Linked DNA regions of Homo sapiens. The protein of the gene in region 3 purifies or fractionates together with the protein of the main gene of each other region. This does not show direct contact. Each region holds a gene or a part of one and is shown on either strand. Other genes may lie near its edges.

Region 1 (2,621 bases), on a different chromosome or scaffold from region 3:
CCTGGCTCTAGGTATATTCTTTAGAAGCTCTCAGTTGAGCTGTCATGGATATTGAATGAGGATTAGCAGGTGTTAGGTTATACAGTGTCCTGAGACTTATGATCAGAGCCTGGTTTCCTCAAGAAGTTTGACCCCTGGATGAGCTTTAAGGCTGAGCTCTTGGCAAACAACTGTCATCCAGAATTCCCCTGTGCCAGGTGGGTCCCTGCTCCTGTTTCATCTGCAGGCTTCAACTCAGCTACCCAGGGCTCAGCCTGCTGGGATTTGGCACCTCTTGTGAGGCTGTCATGGTATCTGACCCTTGCCTTATCCTGCCCACCTCCGTGATGGGGTCCTGTTTCCATCTAGCATCGCCTACCCACTCCCATCTCATGCTGACAACTCACAGGAACTGGTGCTTCTCAGACCCCTCTGGTCCAGACGGGTGAATGCAGAGCCTGACAGGCCCACCTATACACATGTATGCACCCCTGCCCAACAGAGACAGAGAGAAACATTGCTGAGCCAGAGGGACCATTTTTATTAGATTCCAGCAAGACTACTGTACATGTTTCATGCAGATTAAATATGTGTCTTCACTGCCCCTGGGAGGGGAGCACTCTCACTGTCAGCTCCTTCATTGGTGTGTCAAGGGGTGAGTGTCAAGGGGAGCTCTCAATGTATTCCGTATGGGGGGCAGTTGGGATCATGACTCGGGGTAGAGGTGAGACAGTAGGTAGCTGAGGGTCCCTGGGACCTTGAGTCTTCAGAGGTTCAGGGACTGCAGGACCTTGGTCCTTTGCTGGTACTGGCACCAGAGGATCTTGATCCTTCAGAGGCACTGGGACTATAGGAACTTGATTCTTCAGAGGTTCAGGGACTATACGACCTTGATTCTTTGGAGGCTGTAGGACTGTGGGGCCTTGATCCTTAACTAGTACTGGGAGAATGGGGTCTTGATTCTTCACGGACTCGGGGACCACAGGACCTTGATTCTTTACAGGTGCCACAACTGCAGAATCGTGAACCTTTGCATGCTCTGGGACTACAACATCTTGATCCTTGACTGGCCCTGAGACCACTAAACCTTGATTCTTTACAGGCTCAGAGACCATGGAACCTTGATTCTTTATGGGTGCTGTGGCCATGGCACTTTCATCCTTCGGATGCTCTGGGACCATGGGATCTTGATCCTTGATAGGTGCTGAGACCATGGGACCTTCATCCTTGACAGGTGCTGGGACTATGGGACCTTCACCCTTGACAGGTGCTGGGACTATGGGACCTTGATCCTTGACAGGTGCTGAGACCATGGGACCTTGATCCTTGACAGATGCTGAGACCATGGGACCTTCATCCTTGACAGGTGCTGGGACCATAGGAGCTTGATTCTTCACAGGCTCAGGAATCCTAGGACCTTGATCCTTTAGAGACTCTGGTACCACAGAGCCTTGATCCTTAACTTTTGCTGGAACCATAGGACTTTGATTCTTTGGAGGAACTGGGACCGAGGGACCTTGGTCCTTGACTGGTGCTGAGATAACAGGGCTTTCATTCTTTAAAGGCTCAGGGACCGTGTGATCTTGATCCTTGACTGGTAATGGGATCATGGGACCTAGATCCTTTGGAGGCCCTGGGACCACAGAACCTTGCTTCTTCAGAGGCTCTTGCACCATAGGACCTTGACCTTTCAGAAGGCCTGGGACCACAGAACCTTGATCCTTGTCTGGCTCTGTGGCTACAGGACCTTGAGTCTTACTTGAATCACTGACGGGTTGAGCCAGGCTCCTGCAAAGGAGAGAGAGGTGATCACTGTGAGAGTAGAGCTCAGGCAGGGACAGGGCAGAGTACAGATTGCCTAATAAGTCTTGGCCTAGTGGAGCCTGGGCCGGGCAGCTCTTGCTGGAGAGCCAGGAGAATATGATTTCTGTGTTCTTAGTACAGAATGTGGGCGGGGGTGAGGGAGGGGGGTGAGGTGAAGGCTCAGGAATCAGTCATTCAATGTGCTTGCCAATTGATTATAACCTGCACGTGGCACAGGGGGTGGCACGCTGGTGACAATGGCAGTACTGTAGCTGGACTCGGAGTCATCCAGTAGGCATCCCAGCAGCCCGTCCACCCCACATTCCATCCAGGTCCCTACTTTTTCTTCTAGGATCGTTGGGCCCATCCTGGGAGCCCCATCTCAGCTGCCCACCAGATGCCCCCACAGGCCAGGGTGCTCTTTTCTTGTTCTCAGGGCCTTCAAAGTTCTTTTGCCTCCCTGACTCCCTGACCCCCTTGTTAAGTGCTGGCTGCAAGAAGGGGCAAGGGGTCCATGGCATACCAGGAAAGGAAGCAGTGGGAATGCCCCTCTCTCCCTCTCCTGCAAGGGGAAAAGTATTTTATCACTGACATTGTATAGAATGAGCAGCATATAGTGATAATAAAAAGCAGGCCAGCTATTAGTTTTTTGTTATTTGTTTTTGTAGAGACGGGGCCTCACTATGTCACCTAGGCTGTTCTCCAGCTCCTGACCTCAAGTGATCCTCCCACCTCAGCCTCCTGAATAGCTGGACTACAGGCAGCTTTTAGCTTTATTGCTTTAAATTCTCCATAGACAGTGCGCCCTGTGATTGCATGCACCACTCCCACTACCCCCA
Region 2 (4,035 bases), on a different chromosome or scaffold from region 3:
ATCATCTGGGTGGGGGATCATCTGGGTGGAGGATCATCTGGGTGGGGGATCAACTGGGTGGGGGCTGCCCTGGGTGGGGGCTGCCCTGGGTGGAAGATCTTATCAGGGGGATGCAGTGGGTTATGGCCCTGTGGCAACCCCAAACACACACACACCAAGAAGAAGCTGGTCTCCCTAGGAGGAGGATCCACGCAGGGCAGCTTGGGGTTTGGCTCGTGGATGCTGGGGACAAGGCCTGAGCCCCAGATGTGGCTGGGCCTGACCCAGGCAGCTCCACCCCTTCCTTCCCAGGAAACACCTTTTGCTCGAGCAGTAGGAACTAGGCGTGTGTAGATTCTGCTGCCTGATCCTGGCTCCTGGCTGAGGGTTTGTGGGCTCAGATGGACTAGACACCCGGCCACAACCCTCCTGGGCATAGCCTTCTGGCTCCCCCAGCCCAGGCGGAGGCATTGAGCGACTCTCCTCACCCAGAGTGTTTTCCCGAAGGCGCTTCTGCCTGAGGGCACCAGGCTGGGCCAGGTACTGCAGGGCGCTGACCAGCACTGGCCTGGGGGCCCCAAGAGCCCCAGATGGCATCCCTCTCACACACTCCCCCTGTCTCACCAACAGCTATAAATAGACTCGGCTCTCTGCTGGCACGGCCTCTCCCGAGGAAGCTTTTAATTCTCTGCGTCCTCTGCAGGGGGTGGCTCCCACAGGCCTGGGAGGGAACAGACTGCCTGACTCTCCAGAGAGCTCCCCAGTCTCCATCTGCGATGGGTGATCCTAATTTTCTTCAGGAAGTTCTCCTGAGCCCTGCGTGTGGCGCTTTGGCCTTTGTGCCCACGGAAGCCCCCTGCGGCCCCTCCCTCCGGGCCCTGCCCAGCCCGGTGCACGAACCCTGTTTACCGATTCCCAGGCCTAGGGCAGCCACTGCCAGTGTGAGGCTTGCAAATTAGGGTAGGGGGTCAAAAGGAAGCCCCTGTTGACCATTTCTGTGAGCATTCTATGCTCATTTCCACAACGAGCATTTATAACCTCGTATAATCGCTAAAACATTTATTGCAACTTCAGGGAATTCGGGAAGATAGACCAACCGCAGCTGTAAGATTAAAACGCAGCCAGTGACCAGCGGAGCTTCCTCCACGCACACGCGGTCCAATCCCCATGACTTCATGTTTTGTGAAGATGCAAAGCGAGTTCATGCCGGCGCCTTTCTGAATCAGAGATCCCTTTAGAAACCATGAAAGCTGCAGACCCCTCCCGGGAAAACGCACACACCCTCCTGGAGCTCGCCTTCTGCAGCCGCTCCGGGAGCCCGCCCCTCCCCCACAGGCCCTCCGAGGATCACGTGGTGGGGAGGCGCTGGCACCGAGCGGCTGACAGGCGCGAGAGCCCAGTTCAAGGCGCCGGCATCAGGCTGCAGCTGCCTCACTCCCCTCCACTTCCTGCCCCTTCCCGGCCTTGGTCCAGCCCCATCTCCTAGTCCCAGGCCACAGGGAGCTGGGTCACCTCCCAGGGGCAGGGGCTGGCTGGGCGTGGGGGGAGACCTCTCCCCCTGAGAAGTCAGGCGGGGAGGGGTGGCCGGGGTGGGCGGAGGGGCCCAGTCCTCTATCGGTCCCCCAGGGGCCCTGCACGCAGAAGAGCCAATAAACATGCCAGGTGGATCAGCGGTGACACTGAGAGGGAACGCAACACCCCATCAAAACAGCAGCCCCCCAACCCCCATCAAAACAATAGCCCCCAACCCCCATCAAAACAGCAGCCCCCAAACCCCTATCAAAACAGCAGCGCCCAAACCCCCATCAAAACAGCAGCCCCCAACCCCCATCAAAACAGCAGCCCCCAAATACCCATCAAAACAGCAGCCCCCAAACCCCATCAAAACAGCAGCCCCCTAAACCCCATCAAAACAGCAGCCTCCCAAACCCCATCAAAACAGCAGCCCCCCAAGCCCCATCAAGACAGCAGCCCCCCTAAACGCTTATCAAAACAGCAGCCCCGCCACTGCCCGGGAGGGACAGGCTTCTCACCTCCCTCGGCTCCGTTTACGTAACCGAAACCGCAGAATAAAGGGCTCCTCAGATCCTCGGGCGCTGCTCCCAGGGGTGCGGGAAGGTGTCCCGGCAGCGCCTCTCCATCGCCACAGGCCCGCGGACAGTAGCCAAGGCCCGGGGCAGCTGGAGGCTCTGCGGGGGGCGGTCTGACAGCCCCACCTGCCAGGACGCGGTGGTGTCAGGACCCCGAGACCCGCTCATTCTGGGCCGTTTCTGTGGCCAGGGATCTCAAAACGTGCTGCGGGCAGTGGCTTCATTCCAGCCCTCCACGCCCTAATTTCCCACGCCTCACACCGGCGGCCCCCTACGCCTGGGAATAGGGAAACGGTTCCAGCCCCGGGCTGGGCAGGGTCTGGAGGGAAGGGCTGCAGGGGCGTCCGTGGCCGCGAAGAAAGGCCAAAGCGCCAGGCACAGGGCCCGGAGAAAGTGACAGACCTGTCCCTGGCGCGGCCGACGGTGACCCCCGCTCGCGGCCTTTGCAAAGCCTCCCCGTCGCGTCCTCGCACCGAGCCCGCAGCGCCGAACTCCGGGCATCCCAATCCGGGGGCTCAGGGACGCGCAGGGCGGCCCGGGAATGTGGCTCGGGGGAGCGCGGGGGGCAGGGGCTGCGGCGCAGGTGGCTGCTGGGGCTGACGGGCCCAGTCTCCGCCCCCGGGTGCCCCCCGCGCCGCGCCCGCAGGACCGAGCCCCGCGCCCGCTTACCTTGGAGACGCAGCAACTGCAGCGGAGGCTCCCCCGCGACCCGGCCGCGCGCGACCAAGTGCTCAGCGCAGCGCTCCCCCTGCCGCCCCGCCCCGCCCCCAGCCCCGCCCCCAGCGTCCCGCGCCCGCCCCTCGTGTTCATTGGCAGCCCCGCCCCCGCCGCCCCACCAGGCCCGGAGCATGCGCGGGCGCACTGAGACCTCAGCCTTACAAGACCGGCTCCGCTGAGGCTCCGCCGGCCGCCAGGTATCCGCTCAGCGCAGGGCGCGGCGGACCTGCGGGCCGTGGGAACCGCTGGGCAGTGGCAGCGAGGCCCCTCACCTGTCTCTGGGGCCCCCCGGGGACGACCGGACCCCGATCTCTGCGCCCCGCAGGACGCGCGTTGACGGTGCGGCGGGGGATGGATGAGCGCGGCCGCGGCCTCCTGGGGTGGGGTGGGTTGGCGGCGGGGCCTCGAGGACAGTGCGGGGCGAGCCCCGACCGCGCCCAGTTCTTTAAGGAGCCGCAGACGGTGCAGGGAAGCGGCAGGGCCGGGCTGTGAGGGTGCTCGGACCCCAAGGCGGGGCGCACCCAGGGGACTGGGCTTCCAGGTGGGGACAGCGCGGCCGGGGATCGACCTGAGCAGGGAGACGGGTCCGTGCCGGGCGCCCAGCGCAGCTGCTCGGGAGTGGGCCGCCCTTCACGCAGGAGTGGAGGAGCGGAGCGCGCACCCCTGACCCCGGCCTCAGCTTCCGTTCTCCCTGCAGGTCGCCCGTGTGCAGCGCCACCATCCCGGCCGCTCTTCCAATCTCGCCTTTCTCCGGGCACCTGCCGCCCCTCCCCCGCTCCCCAGACAGGCTTTGCGGAGGGGGCTCATTCCGCCCGGGGCTGCCGGGCCCTCCGCAGGAGTTGGCTCCCCACAAGGTTCCGGGGCCGAGACGACAGGGCGGTTCTGTGGTGCTGGGTGCTGGGACTTCAGGGGCACAGGGGCACCTGCCCTGGAGGAGGCCGAGGCGCAGCCCCCCAGGAGGAAGGGGTGCCTCTGGTGACTTTCAGCGGGACTCTTCCAGCCGGACTCTAGTGCAGCTGAGCTCCTCCCCCAGTCCCGGCTCTGTCCCTGCCCCAGGTGTCCAGCAGGCCCTGGAATCCGCAAAGGCAGAAGGGGAAGTTGGGGTGCTGGGTGCTGGGCAGGGGGTGCTGAGGCCTCACAGCCCGGCGGCTTGGCCCCCACCCACCCCACGGTGGTCCCGCGCCCCACACTTCCTCTCCTCTCCTGTGGTTTCTCCTTCCACTCAGTGCTGCCCAGAGATGGGCTTCTG
Region 3 (4,147 bases):
CAGCCTCCTCCTTGTCCCCGCCCTCAAATATCCTTCAGTGAGGACACCGGTGACCTTTGGGGGTGGAGAGGGAGGCGCCTACAAGCCCCTTCCCCTCTCTTCGGCCGGACACAAAGCGGGCTTTTCCACCTAGAGTCCCAGCGCTCTCACCTGCGCACCAGCCGTCGCGCCGCCCCAGGCCGCCACCGCCAGAGGCCCCAGAAACAGATCTCAAGCAGCCGCTGCTGCCGCGGATCCCGACAACCTTCGCGTCGCGCGAGGGCACGGAGCACGCGCAGCTCTGCGGTCGACGCCGGGCCGCCCCCACTCCGCTTCTCCGGGTTTTCCGTGAAGCTCCAGCCAACAGCGGCCGTCACCGGAAAAAACGGGGAGCGAAGTTTATTCAGCGTATATTCCAGCAAATTGTTGAAACTGAAATTTTAAAAGAACGCATAAAATTTAAATAACATATCAAAATGGCACAGCTTCTGCCTTTTGGTGAGCGCTTGACAATGATTTATTGAATGAAAGAAAGAAATAGTCCACTGCGCTCTGCTCTCTGTCCTGACATGACCAATTACAAAGCGCTTGGATTTGTCGCTCAGCGCCAGTATCCCGCCTCTCTGTGCGGTTGTCTGGAAAATCAGGATTTTTACTCTCCCGTAACTCCCGGGATCGGGTTTGGAAAACGGACATGCGCCGTGAGAGCTAGTTGCCTTCTACTAAAGCATCCGCCCTCAGTCCTTCCTGAGGGCTTACAGGGAAGTGCGGAGTTTCGCAGCTCGTACTCTTCACAGATTAGATAATTCACCCGGCATTTCCCCATCCTGCTTCTGGGTTCCAGGACAAAACTTTTATTCTCTTTTAACATTAAAAAACATATAGGAAGTTATGTTCAAACATGGCTATTTTTATTAAAATTTATCCGGCACTGTGAAAGCTACCTTTCCTTTCTCACAATCTTTCGCACCGAATATATGTTCCATTCTTGAGCTAGTCATTTTCCAATGTTAAGAAAACACACCACAGAAAAGCGTTTTTTTTTCTCTCGGTCAGTTCAACTGCCTAGCACCGTGAGTTACCATGATACGTTATTTGCTAATGAGAGTCATTGGGGTCCCAGCCTTTAAAAATAGCCTGCGTCCGGCGCCATTTTTGTTTTGGGCCCACTTTGAAAGCCGCGATATTCTGAACAGAGGCCATTTTTCTTTTGGGCAGATTCCACGGGCCATCGAAGTGTTTCGCTGCCATCTTAAATCCTGGCTGTGGCCTCAATCCTGCAGCGAAGCTGCCCAGATCATTTTGTGTTTGGGCGGCGGCTGAGTTCCCAAACGCGCGCGGAGACCCTGGGAAGGAGGAAGTAAGCGCGAAAGTGCTTCCCTTAAGCTTCTGAAGGTTGGCTGCAGTTCCGGCTACCTGTGTAGTCCGAGTTTCCACAGCCAGGTACTACTCCGCCAGTGACCCTGGACAGTAACAAAACATATAAAGCCCGAGCCCAAACCCCGCCACCATCATAGGTAAGCACATGGACCTCTGACAACCTCAGATGTTCCTTCAAGTGAACTGAACTGTTTGCCCATCTCCTCCCTCCTGGTTTTTGGCTTTGATTTTTTGAGACTTTTCCGAATCCTTCTCCCTGTACTTCCACCTTTCTTCATTGTTTTCAAAAAGCCAAAAAGTTGCTAAACATCAGGATGCCATGAGCATGGGCATTACGGTGGAGATATTATTCAGGAAAGTTAACTGTCTTTGCACAAAGGGAATGCAGTAGATGGGCCAGGTATTTGTATCAAATCATGGCTACCTGCATCCAGCAGTACAAATACCTCCCCCTTCCCAGACATTTTTGGAGATGTGAGGTAAATACAGATTGCGTTTGTATATACTTCCCATTCATTCATTTATTCATTGCATTTCTTGAGTACCTAATTTGTGCTAGGCCATAAGGATTCAGGAGTTAGCTAAAAAAAATCCATTAACTCATGGAGCCTACATTTTATCACCTTGACATCTACTAGGTTGAGACAAATAACAGTATTTTATGGTTCTTAGCACTGCTAGACTGTATAAACAAGTATTTGCTTTCTCCTTCCCCTGAACTATTTTTTTTTATTTTTAGTTTTTAATTTTTTTGGCCGGGTGTAGGAATTAATGGTATTGACACTTACTTCTTGGATCCTAGACATAACGATATTTGTAAGCCAGTTGGCTAGCGTTAAAACTAATATTCCAGTTACTTAGGGCCTTGTTGCTCCAAGTTCATTTCACCTACCACCAGCATCAGCATCCCTGGGAGCTTGTTAGAATTACACTTCATGACTCTCACCCCAGAGCTGCTGAATCAGAATCTTCCTCAAGAAGTGTACCTTAAAGTTCAAGGAACATTGATTCAGGGCATGGGCTAAAGATACAGCCCTTTCTTTCTTTCTTTTTTTTTTTAGATGGAGTCTCGCTCTGTTGCCCAGGTTGGAGTGCAGTGGCGCGATCTTGGCTCACTGCCATCTCCGCCCCCCGGGTTCAAGCAATTCTCCTGCCTCAGCGTTCCCAGTAGCTGGGATTACAGGCGCGCGCCACCACCCCCGGCTAATTTTTGTATTTTTAGTAGAGACAGGGTTCGCCATGTTGGCCGGGTTGTTCTCGAACTCCTGACCTCAGGTGATCCACCCGCCTTGGCCTCCAAAGTCCTGGGATCACAGGCCTGAGACATCACGCCCGGCCTGGCCCATTCTTTGTTCAACCCGTGCTTCTTAACTAGATTCACAGTGTATTATCAATTTATTGCATGTTCTAAATGCAATGGATATTTGACAGGTTTTTTTCTGTGCTTTTAGTTCATTGACTTGATGTTAGGGCGTCAATTTAGCTTTCCAAAAAGTTGAAAAGAGATTTTGTCATCCCAATATACTTATATGTAATTTCTGTTATAACATCTGAAATGTAGGGTTTTCTCTGTAAGTCTTAGCATCCAATTTACCACTGGTTTGCGTTTTTTTTTTAAAAGTTGTTTACTGTGCTTCTTGCTTTCTCATATCTTGTATGCATATTTGTACTTTTAATTTGTTAAAAGTTGAACTCAAAAGTTTGCATGTGGACAGCAGTTCAATACTGACTTGGAAAACCTTGGGCCTTGGTTTACCAAAGCTTTTTGTGGCACCTTGCTTTCTTCTGTCTTCCCATTTTATTTTACTTCTTTTATTTTTATTTTTTGAGACAGGGTATAACCCTGTTGCCCAGGCTGAAGTGCAGTGGTGGGATCATAGCTCACTGTAACCTCCAACTCTTGGGCTCAAGCGATCCTTCTGCCTTGGTCTGTCAAAGTGCAGGAAAGCAGGCATGAGCGACTGCACCCAGCTGCCTTCTGTCTTTCTTTAATGAGAAGACTAAATCAAGAGTTCTCAGCCTTGGCTGCACGTAACAATCACCTGGGAGCTTTAAAAACAGACTCCAGCCCTGTATCTGCAGAGATTGAGACCCTCTGGATGAAATTAAAGAGCCAGTAAGGAGTATGAGAAAACAGAAACAACTTTTACGTTTTATGTTGCTATGTTAGATTTTCTCTCCCTTATGGTGTTACTTAAAATAATCGGGATTTTGAAAACCATGAAAAGATCTGGATTAAGAATGTAAGGAACCAGCTTCCCAGTAACTGGTCAACTTGCCAATTATTTGCTCTGTGTCCTAAGAAAGTTGTCCAGCCTTTCTGCTTCTCCTCCCTCCATCTATTAATTGGGAAAAGAAAATAAAGCCACTGTTGTTTTTTATTTAGTTTCATGTGGTGTTGCCAATTGTAGTGAATGTTTATATTCTGTGAGTGTGAGAAAGAAAAGTATTTTACAAGTACAATATTCATTGCTTCTAGTATTAACATACCTCATATTGTGTGTGGCAGTAGAACATGATGGGTTAGGAAATTAACTCTAGAGCTAGACTCCCTGGGTTCAAATTCTAGCTCCTCTACTAATCAGCTTTGTGACCTTGATCAGATAACTTATCCCTTCACTACCTCAGTTTCCTCATCTGTAAGATAGGGTTGATGTGAACGTTAGATAAATTCATACAAGAAAAATGCTTGTCATAGTGCCCGGCACATAGTCACAGCCATGTAAATATTAATTAACTATTGTTAAATTTTATGATAATTAAATTTCTGGGCTTTAAGGTTTTGTTT
Region 4 (3,500 bases), on a different chromosome or scaffold from region 3:
AAGGCGCCGCATCACTGTGCCTGCTGAGAAAAAGAGGCACACAGAGACCATGCTGACCAGTTCAGAGGATAGTGTAAGACAGAGATGGAGGAGGGGAATGGAACTGAGAAGGGAAAAACAAGGAACAGGATAGGAGAAATGAAAGGAGTCTTTCATTTTACCTTGAGGTATAAGCCGCTGAGTCCCCCGAGTGAAGACATGGCCCTGACTGCACTCAATCTGGATGCCCCGTTGCTGGGCAAATGAGGCCCAATAATGTACCTGGCAACAAGAGAGCATAACATTAACAAAGGATGGCATGAGAGGGATGATTAAGGGACTCAATATGAGAAACAAGAAAACTAGAAGCAGAATAAAGTGAAGATGTCAGCAGGGACATCAGTGCCTTACCTGCAGCTGGGGAAAGAGGGCTGTATAGGAAAGTTGCTTGTAGTGCTGACCAAGTTTCTTCTTGCTGGGTTTCAGGTTATTGAAGAGCTTTCCCCTGCAGATAGGCCTTGTGACACTTGTCCAAGTTGCCCAGAAGTTTTGCATCCAGCGCAGGGTACTACTATATAGCAGAATTCGGGGCTGGGATATTGCTGCAAAGAGAAAGACAGACATTTCCTAGTTATGGATGAAACACAGAGGTAAAGCTAAATCCTTCCCTTGCTGCAGGTTGTAGAGGTTTAAAAATCCAAAATCCAAACAGCACCTAGCCTCACATTCAGCATCCCCAACTCCCTCTTCTTTCAAGGATCTAAGCTCTCTGCTTTCCCCTACTGCTATGGTCTAAATGTTTGCATCTCCCCAAAATTCATGCTGAAATACCCCTAAGGTAATGATGTTAAGAGGTGGGCCTCTGGGAGGTCACTAGATCATGACGGTGGAGCCTTCATGAATAGGATTAGTGCCCTTTTAAAAGTGGTCCAAGGGAGCTCACTGACTCCTTCCACCATATTAGGACACAGCAAAAAGGCACCATCTATGAGGAATGGGCCCTCACTGACACTGAATCTATCAGCTCTTTTTGATCTTCGACTTTCAAGCCTCCAGAACTGTGAGAGATAAACGCTTGTTGTTTATAAGCTACCAAACTTGTGGTATTACTGTTATAGCAGCCAAAAAGGACTAAGACACCAACCCTTTCCCCTGCCAAAAAACAAAAAAAAAGGTCCTAACCTAGATTCTCCCTTGCCCTTCTCCCCTCCCCTCCCCTCCCCAGAGGGTCAAGCTAAAGTCCCCAGCATCCATGCCCGTCCTCCCAAGCCCTTCCTCCCCACTGCCCCAGGCCCAAGCCTCACTTCCACTGTGCCGAGTCAGATCCATCTTGATGGAGAGATTGAGGTTCTCCGAGCGAAAGGCCCGGTAGGAGTCATGAAGCTGGCCCAAGGGCACCTCAGGCAGGAACTCTGGGGCCCGCAGAGTGACACTATGGTGATCATGGGGGTTCCCATGGCACAGCCACTGCAGGTCCAGTGTCATGCAGAGGTCAGGCAGGTGAAGGAAGCAGCAGTCGTCATACCTGCCTCACAATGGAACCCCAGCCCTCAGTGCCCTGGTCACTCACTTCCCCTTGGCTCTTCCCCCTCCCTCCAACCTGAGCCCCTCATCCCATGGAGGACCCTCCCTTCACTCCACTCACTTAGAGGCTGTTCTCACGTTGATATCCAAGTCACCCTTGAACACAAACTGACCAGGTTTCCAATGAAAAGACAGGTGGCTCCACTCCCAGTGCATATTTTCAGTTGTGTTGTATGGATCCTATGACCACCCCCGAGAATTTGGTGAGATATAGGTAAGAAAACCATCCTCATCTCCCAAATCAGCACCTGTCTCTCTTCCCACATGTGCTATACAGACCTCAACCATACCATCCTGATAGGATAAAAGTATCATGACACCCCTCACCTCAGTGGCCAGCTGGTGCAGGTTCGCCTGTTCAATGTCCATGTGCCAGTCTCCATGGAACAGAAGACGGCTCTTGTCCCACCAGGGCAAAGGTGGGCTGGGGTCAGCTGAGGGCTTGGTCAAGAGGTCCACACACTGGCCAATTAGTGTCCAGGCTGGATCCCAGCATGGGCCCCACACCACTGTGTACTGGAATATTTCCGCTGGGGTAGAGGAACAAAGGCTATAACTTGTTCACAACATTACCCCTCTCTTCCTCCTTCACTCCAGAAGGGTCTCAGCTCACCTCCCATTTCACCCATCACAAACGTCCCTCAGCCAAACCAACTGCCTCATCTCTACTCACAGTGAAAGTCATGGTAGAATTTGAGTGGGGGCATGTTCCTCTCCACTGCCACGTTACCCCACGGAAGCCCCAAGTGCAAGATCTGACGCCGACGGGAGCAAGGCTGACCACTCTGCTCGGTGCCCACAAGTCGACCCATTAGCCGCCAGTCACGGATCTCAAACAGGTACCGTGGATAGTCCCTGATCCGAACTGTTACCAGAGGAAGGGTACACACTGGCTACTCAGGGGCAGTCTGAGCACTCTCGGGCCTATCTTTTTCCTCACCACTATTTTACCCATCTATATTTACAAAGTCAATTGAGAGAACAAGGGCAGGCAGTTGACACAGCAAGCTGAAAAATGACAGTGACCCTGGAGCAGGTGGTTAAGGGCATAGCACTGAGATCCAAGAGACACAATAACCTTAAAGATGACTGTGTTAGCTTTCCCTTTATGTTAGCCAAGCAATTTCACGGTGAAATTCAGGAACAAAGAAAGGGAAGGGAAGCCCACCCATCCCACTCCACCCACCCAAAACGGCACAGTTCCCAATATAACCTAGTTCCTCTGAAATCACTGAGAGCTCCCCAGAGCTCAGCGGGCAAACACGGGGTCTGCAAATAAAGGAAACACTACTTACCCAGAAAGCTCTTGACATTGCACTTGAGCATTCGACACCACTGAATGACAAGATCTAATCCCTCAGGGGGAAAAGGGCTGCCTGGATCAAGCTCTTGAACCTGTTCTACCACATGCTCAGGACCATGGAAGGAGGCATCTGCCAGAGCTACCAGTTCTAGCCCTGCTAAGCTCCAAGTAAGCAGTGCCCGGCGCATGGGTGTGTTGCCATAGAGACGACGGGAACGCTGGATGTAGATTTCAATGTTTTTGCGTTCCAAAGAGGCATAGAGCTCCTCAATTTTGCGGGCAGGCAACAACTCCCCATGCTGCTTCCGAAGGGCGGCCACTTTAGCATCCAGTAGCTGTAGTCTTTTGGCACTCTCCTTACTTTCATCCTTCATCAGCTCGTAGTTATCATGAAGTTTCACCTCAAAAACATCATCCAAGAAAACCCATGAGAAGTGCTCAACCTTTAAGAGTAGATCAGGTGGGAGTGGGACAGGGCTTGGAGAGGCCCAAGCACGAGTCCCTTGATGTAGTCCCTTCAGCCACTTCTGAACTCCCACAGCCTCATCTAGAGTTCGAGAAAAGTCATACTGATAAGGAAACTCCACCGAGACTGAGCCGAAAGAGAGGAGCCAAACACGGTTCCGGAGGGTCT
Region 5 (3,500 bases), on a different chromosome or scaffold from region 3:
CACGTACCACAGCGATGGACGGGTCAAGCTCCGCGATGCTCATGCGGCACGGCGGGTGCTGGCAGTGGAAGCTCTCGTCCGGGATGAAGCAGCCATCAGTGGGCTCCACGGCTGGCTGCGTGGTGTGGGGGTCCAGGTAGATGAGCTCCTCACCTGGGAGGATGAGGCAGGTGGGCAGGTGGGTGGCCGAGCCGGCAGAGGAAAGGGACAGAGGAGGCCGCATTTCAGACCCACTGCACCCACATCACACTGAGAAGCAGTGGGCAGGAGGTGGGGAGGGAGCCGAGGGCACCAGACCATCAGGGAAAGGGGCACACAGGAGGCCGCCCGCGACCAGGCTGAAAATGAACCCCAGGGCATGCTGCTTTTCCACCAGTGGCCTCAAGTGGTCACCTGGGGTGTGGTACCTGCTCATGGAATGCCCTTAAAAGGCCCAGGCCCACAGGGACACGGTGGGAACCCTGGACTCACCAACGTAGCCGATGAAGTAGTGGGCGCTGTTGGGCTTCCCTCCGATGACGCCCAGGGACTGGGGCATCATGAAGCAGTGCTGTGGAGGGGCGGGGGACTGAGCACAGGTCCCAGGTGGGAGCAGACGGTCCCCCCACCCACTGCCATAGGGGGCCCAAGGGCCTGCTGAGGCCCAACTGGGTGACACAAGAGGGGACAGGAGGGGACATGGTACCAAAGAGCTTACTGTCCAGGAAAGACCACAGGACATCCCACAGGCACAAGAAACCCAATCTGCAGGCTCAGCTCAGGGAAGCTTCATGTCAGAGGTGGGCTTTGGGGAGGCCGGGAGTGAGGGGGCCTGGCAGGAGATGTGAGCAGGGGTGCGGGAGGTGGCCCTGCTGAGTGCTTTGACCTGACAGGGCAGAAGCGATGGAGACGGGGCCTATGTGTGGGGGCAGCTGAGACCCCACAGGATGGGCAGAAGGCTGGACGGAGGGGCCAAGTTCAGACAACTGAATAATTTTAACAGGAAGCCACATTTCAGTTCCATACAAATGTGACTCCTTGGTCTAAAATTTGAGTTACCTGAAGAAAGGATGGTTTTCCCTTCTGCTTGCTTTTTTTTTTTTTTTATTTGAGATGGAGTCTCACTCTGTCACCCAGGATGGAGTGCAATGGCATGATCTCGGGTCACTGCAAGCTCCGCCTCCTGGGTTCAAGAGATTCTCCTGCCTCAGCCTCCTGTGTAGCTGGGACTACAGGCGCGCACCACCATGCCCGGCTAATTTTTATATTTTTAGTAGAGACAGGGTTTCACCATGTTGGCCAGGCTGGTCTCAGACTCCTGACCTCGTGATCTGCCCGCTTTGCCCTCCCAAAGTGCTGGGATTACAGTCATGAGCCACCGCTCCCCGCCCCCTTTTGCTTTCATGACATGGGGGAGCCTGTGGCTGGAGCTCCTCACACAGCCCTGCCCATCCCCAGGCCCTGCCCACACGTCCCTTCCTCACAGGCCAACCCACCCTCCGAAGGGACCTCAGGCCAAGAGGGCTGTGGGGGAGTGGGGTGGGCATGCCTGGGGCACAGTGGAGACCCGGGAGGGGGCGGGGCTCCCCGTCAGGCCGAGGAGTGGCACCTGGTTCCAAGGACCCCCTGCAAGCGCCTCATGCTTTCATCCTCGACACTCGCCTTGACACTTGCAGAACGAAAGCAGCACGTGCCTACTGATGGACGTGCCTCACGCCCACTCACCCCTTGGGCAACGGTGTAAACCAGGGTTGTTTACCCCTCCCCCGAGAGCCGGCTGCACAAATGGCCACGTGACGACGATGCGCTGAAAGTGACTAAGAACTGGGAGAAGGGGACGGGGACTCAGGGCAAGCGCCGCACGGCAGGACCCACCTTCAGCGTCTCCACGTAGGCCTCGTTGATGTCCGTGAGCCCCAGGCGCAGGGGAATGAGAAGTACCAGGGGTCTCCATGGCGACGGCCTGTTGGTGACCTCAGCTCCGGCAGGGAATCCGTTGCAGTGCCGGTCGGAATCTGCAGGAAACGCAGTGGCGCCTGCACAGGGAACGCTGGTCCTGCACAACCTTCCTAGAAAGGGAGACATGCTTTCACTAACCAAGCAGACCTGTGCAAAAGTGCTCCCACAACAAGCAAGCAAATGATGACTGTGTAACAGAAAAAGGGCGGTACAAAGCCAGGTGCTTACAGTGAAATTCAAACTTGGAAAATATAGAAAAGCGTAAGAAAATTTTTTCATAATCTTGCCACCCAGAGAAAAAAGAAATAGTTTCTATGCATACTTAATTCAAGAGTTTTATTGTGAAATAAAGCACACACACGAAACAGTGCAAGAAAAAGCCACGTGCACTTGAGAGGAAAATCACAGAAGTACCCACGCAGCCTGCCAGCCTGGCTAGTGCCAGCACAGCCAGAACCCGCTCCCTCCGGGCCTCCTCAGCAACGCCTTTCCTCGCTTCCACCCCTTCTGCCTACACACACCCGTGAGTCAATGGTCCGGAGGACACATCAACCGGAGGGTGCGGTGATGGGAGAAGACACTCCGGGAGCATGGAGCATGCCCGGCGTCTAGATCGAGGTTTCTCAACACCACTCCCCACTCAGAGGAGCCAGGCTGATTCCAGGGCCAGGCAGGGAATGTTCAGAGGTGCCTGCAGCATCTGCTTAACCCAGAACATAAGGGAGGGCTCAAAACATAAACGAAAAACGCCAGAACACGGCAAAAGACACCACCAGACTGAGGTGGCCACCGGCCAAAGGTGGAACCGTCAAGCATCAAAAAGATGGACAGTGACAGGTGACAGTGACAGTGACAGGTGACAGTGACTGACAGGTGACAGACAGGTGACAGGTAGCACACTGCACACTAAGTGATGGGAGAAAAGGCGGCTCTTCTCAGAACGCCAACCAATAAACGTGAAAGGAAAGGACAGGCTAGAAAAACCACCATTATCAGGCAGGAGTCACACAGCTCACCAGGACATGCTCAGTGTCACCACTGGATTATTCATTAATTACAAAGGAAAAAAGACACCATCTCCGGGGATCTGACATAGTGTCCCACTGCAGGCCCCGGATGGGAGAGCAGAGGACACTGCCACCCAGAGGCTACTCTCAGCCACAGGCTCAACCCAAGCCCAACTGTGAGGAAGCAGACAAATCCAGCGTGTGGGATGGTCAGCTGACCTGAACTCGTCAAAAATGCCACAAAGCAGCAACAACCACAACAAAGAGGCAGAACCTTCTCAATTAAAGACTAGAAAGACATCACAACTATATACACACAGCACCGGACCCTCAACCAGGAACACAAATCAGCGGCACGGGTTGTTCCCTGGACAGCAAGGGGCCAAGACGGACCCTGGTGAGTCGTGGCGTCACCTCTTTTGTGGTGATGAGGCTGTGTGGCTCTCAGGAACACTCTCATTCGTAGGAGGCTTGCTCATAAAAACCAAGCGTGTCAAAACACAATTGGTGGATCTAGGTGGAGGGTTTGTGGCCATGACTCACTGAACTTTTTTG
Region 6 (3,500 bases), on a different chromosome or scaffold from region 3:
ATCCAGAGCTGCAGCAGTTTTTCCTTAGGTAACCTCAAATTGCAGATGAGAGAAGAATGTCACAATAAAAGTACAAGCCTGACAGGGAAGACTGTATGAAAGTGGGCAGGGAAGGAGCATAGGATAAGAAATAAGAGGTATAGAGTGTAAAAGAAGAGAGATGGTAATCACCTGGGGAGAGGAATGAGGGGAGGTGGCTAGAAAAGCAGGGGAGGGTCTTGGGGGGAAACTAGAAAATAAAAGATAAGTAATATCAGTGATAATTATTGTTACCACTAACATTTACTGAGTGCTTAATATGTGCCAGACACTGTGCTAGGCACTTTATATGGGTTATTTTAATTAATCTTCACAGAAATCCAAGGTGTCTTCTTCCATCGTTATCCCATTTTTACAAATGAGGAAACGGAGTCAAAGAGAAGTTAAGTAGCTCACCCAATGTTACACAGCTAGAAATTGTGGGCTGAATACAAAAGAAGACAAGCAAATATTAAAGCAGATTTATGGATCAGGAGCAAGGTTTAGGGGCCACCGAGGTGAGGGAGAGGGAAAGGGAGAGGGGGAGAGGGAAAGGGAGAGAGAGGGAGGGAGGGAAGGAGGGAGGAAAGAAGAAGATGATGAAAGGATATCATGAATTATCTGCAAGGCTAAGGAAGATATATATTTGTCAGTACAAAAAATAACATGCAAGATAGTATGAGGTCACCAACTATTAATTTCTGATGGACCAGCTTGATTATTTTTCTTCTATTCCCTAAACTTTAGAACCCAGTTCCATGCTTAACTCCTATCCAGCAACCCAGCTTCATCCTTCTCCCAGCAGGCTTTCCAGCCAGATAACCCTGACAATACCTGCTTGCCATCTGCACCCAAGGCACCAGCCCTGCACACCAGCAGCGGGCCCACCAGGCCAGAATTTGTGTCTCTTATGGGATCTGCAGCAGAGAAGTACATCCAAGTGAGACAAGCAGGATCCTGAGCAGTGGGACCGGCATGAGGGGGGACTGTCCAGCGGTATGTTACTTTCTCAAAGGGCTTGGCAACCAAGCCAGGGTAAGATGAGCCTGTAGTGAAAATATGGGACTCATTACTTAGATTGACTAGAATGAGAATCATCAGCTCCAAACAGTGAAATAAAGATTATGAACTACAAAGGCATTTTGGAGCAGCAGTAGCAGCAACATGGAATATTGAATAATGAGGAGAACTCTGGTCAAGGAGTCAAGAGATGAGTTTATTTTCTCGTTCTTCCATTACTTGCTATATGAAATGCAGCAATTTAATCTTCCCTATGTTTCAGTTTTCCAAAATCATAGGACTTTGGGACTAAAAATGGACTTTAAGACTTATTTGGAACATCTCTCACTTGAAAACATACATTAATCTGCTCTTACATCCCTACTTCTGCTTAAAACTCTCCAGTGATGGGGGACTCACTACCTGCCATTATAGTCCATGTCATCTTTGAACAGCTCTGATTATTTAATTTTTTTCTTTTAATATGTATTATGTACATGTGGGTGTGTATATGTTATGTATGTATGTATATATATACATATATATATAAAACACTAAGGCTGTAATTTCTAAAATGGACACAAGACATGGTCAAGCAATGCACAGACCTTTTTCAAATTTTCATGCCATCAGTAATCAAAGAAGTACAATTGAAAATAGCTAGATAACTTTTTTACAAATTAATTTAGCAAAGATTTTACAAATTGTAATAATGCATGATGGTAAGAAGTGGTTTAGATGGCACCTACCCTACTCACTCACCTATAAAGAGTGTAAATGTAAAAGGGAATAACACTTGAAAAAAAATATAGACAAAATTTGAAAAAAAAAAAGTACACCAAAATGTAGACAAAGCTATTTCTTTAAAAGGTTCATATGCACAAGTAGAATAATATATGCAATAAATACTGAATGTTCAACATGAAATAATCAAACAAATGTAAATCAAAACAACAGTGAGTTTTGTTGATGCTGTCGTTTGCCTACAAGACTGTCATTTTGACAAGATTAAAAAGATTTCCCCAGTGCTGATGAGGTTGTAAGAAAAGGAGTCCTCCTCAGGTACTGCTAATGGAACTCTAAACTGATAGGACTGCAAATCTTTCCAGAGAGTAATTTGGGTGTAGGTACCAAAAATTTTAATGTACATAGCCTCTGATATAGCAATTCCCCAACTTAAAAATATATTCTGAAGAAAGGTTTATAAAAACATTCAAAGAAACATATGGAAGGATATTTCTAGTATAGCTTATAACAAGGGGCTATAATTTAGGATGGTTTTAACCTACCTTTCCTTATTCATTCATTATTTCTTACTTTTCAAATTTTCAAATATACAGAAAACTTTAAAAAATAGTGCAATGATCAACCTATCACCTAGAGTCTATTGCTAACATTTTGCCATCTTTATTTATCTACTCTATGTGTATATACATCTACACACACATACATACAGTTTTTGTTTGTTTGCTTTTGTTGAATCACTTGGAAGTAGAATACAAACATCATGATATTAGCACGCATCTCCTATGTCGCTATAATGCCATTATTCCACCTAAGAAAATTCCCTAATAACATCTAATATCCAGTCTATATCAAGAATTTTGCAATTATCTCCAAAATGTCTCCTAAAGCTATTTTTACAAGCAGAATCAATCAAAATTTGCACATTTCATTTGTTATGTCTCTAATCCCCTTATTGATGGTATTGACTTCTTGAAGAGACTAGACCAGTTGCCTTATAGAATGTTCATTCTAGATTTGTCTGCAACTTTGCTCTTTATGCTTTCAGTTTTTCTTTTATAGTTTGGCTAGAATTAGCATGCATTAATATTCTTAGATAAAGTAAAAAATCAATTACACAATACTCTCACTTCTAAGATTCTCTCCTGATACAGTAATCCAAAATGCAAGCTAGGATATATGCATTCATTCATTGCAACCTGACTTACAATATTCAAAAATACTGAAAAAAACCTACATGTCCAAGCAATAGAGGAAAAAGTAAATAAATTTCGACAAATCCTTGAGATAAAGTGTTTTATAGTCATTAAAATGTTTGTAGCATTTTAATGGCATAGAAAAACAAACACAATACAATGGTAACTGAGAATAGTAGGATGCAAAACTGTACAAACCATATGATCACATATCTCTATATATAGACTTGTATAAGCACATAAAAATATTTAAAGGTATATCAAAATTTATATGACAATCTATAAATGATGCTTATTTACTTTGTAATTGTCTGCTTTTCAGAGTTCTATAATAAACTTATTTTTAAAATTAGGATATATTTAAATATATTTAAAAGAAATTTTCTCTTATTATTGAAGCCCAGCTCTGTTTTACTATTATATTATTCATTCATTCAACAACATCCACATATGGCAAATAATTCTGCCTACTTCATCCTCTCCATCTCCCATTTATTTGTTTTCTAGAGACACATGGTACCACCTAGAGCCCACATTTACTAG

The links.
Region 1: the proteins of SLX4IP (region 3) and MAP6 purify together in Homo sapiens (affinity purification with mass spectrometry, with the first as the bait; one large-scale study listed by BioGRID). This does not show direct contact.
Region 2: the proteins of SLX4IP (region 3) and ZDHHC11B purify together in Homo sapiens (affinity purification with mass spectrometry, with the first as the bait; one large-scale study listed by BioGRID). This does not show direct contact.
Region 4: the proteins of SLX4IP (region 3) and BLTP2 purify together in Homo sapiens (affinity purification with mass spectrometry, with the first as the bait; one large-scale study listed by BioGRID). This does not show direct contact.
Region 5: the proteins of SLX4IP (region 3) and ATG4B purify together in Homo sapiens (co-immunoprecipitation; one large-scale study listed by IntAct). This does not show direct contact.
Region 6: the proteins of SLX4IP (region 3) and HEPH purify together in Homo sapiens (affinity purification with mass spectrometry, with the first as the bait; one large-scale study listed by BioGRID). This does not show direct contact.

What each region holds. Positions count from the first base shown.
Region 1 is NC_000011.10:75,586,418-75,589,038, forward strand, and holds the end of MAP6 (microtubule-associated protein 6), read right to left. Parts: intron 1,768-2,621; coding exon 642-1,767; 3' UTR 501-641; downstream 1-500. UniProt on the Homo sapiens protein: Involved in microtubule stabilization in many cell types, including neuronal cells. Specifically has microtubule cold stabilizing activity.
Region 2 is NC_000005.10:781,930-785,964, forward strand, and holds the start of ZDHHC11B (probable palmitoyltransferase ZDHHC11B), read right to left. Parts: upstream 2,801-4,035; 5' UTR 2,739-2,800; exon of another isoform or gene 2,013-2,738; intron 1-2,012. UniProt on the Homo sapiens protein: Probable palmitoyltransferase that could catalyze the addition of palmitate onto various protein substrates and be involved in a variety of cellular processes. May play a role in cell proliferation.
Region 3 is NC_000020.11:10,433,958-10,438,104, forward strand, and holds the start of SLX4IP (protein SLX4IP), read left to right. Parts: upstream 1-1,347; 5' UTR 1,348-1,496; intron 1,497-4,147.
Region 4 is NC_000017.11:28,631,659-28,635,158, forward strand, and holds part of BLTP2 (bridge-like lipid transfer protein family member 2 isoform 1 precursor), read right to left. Parts: coding exon 2,859-3,500; intron 2,429-2,858; coding exon 2,237-2,428; intron 2,094-2,236; coding exon 1,891-2,093; intron 1,744-1,890; coding exon 1,625-1,743; intron 1,505-1,624; coding exon 1,284-1,504; intron 582-1,283; coding exon 391-581; intron 262-390; coding exon 162-261; intron 24-161; coding exon 1-23. UniProt on the Homo sapiens protein: Tube-forming lipid transport protein which binds to phosphatidylinositols and affects phosphatidylinositol-4,5-bisphosphate (PtdIns-4,5-P2) distribution.
Region 5 is NC_000002.12:241,665,193-241,668,692, reverse strand, and holds part of ATG4B (cysteine protease ATG4B), read right to left. Parts: intron 2,049-3,500; coding exon 1,855-2,048; intron 551-1,854; coding exon 472-550; intron 154-471; coding exon 8-153; intron 1-7. UniProt on the Homo sapiens protein: Cysteine protease that plays a key role in autophagy by mediating both proteolytic activation and delipidation of ATG8 family proteins. Required for canonical autophagy (macroautophagy), non-canonical autophagy as well as for mitophagy.
Region 6 is NC_000023.11:66,195,247-66,198,746, reverse strand, and holds part of HEPH (hephaestin isoform a precursor), read right to left. Parts: intron 1,065-3,500; coding exon 853-1,064; intron 1-852. UniProt on the Homo sapiens protein: Plasma membrane ferroxidase that mediates the extracellular conversion of ferrous/Fe(2+) iron into its ferric/Fe(3+) form.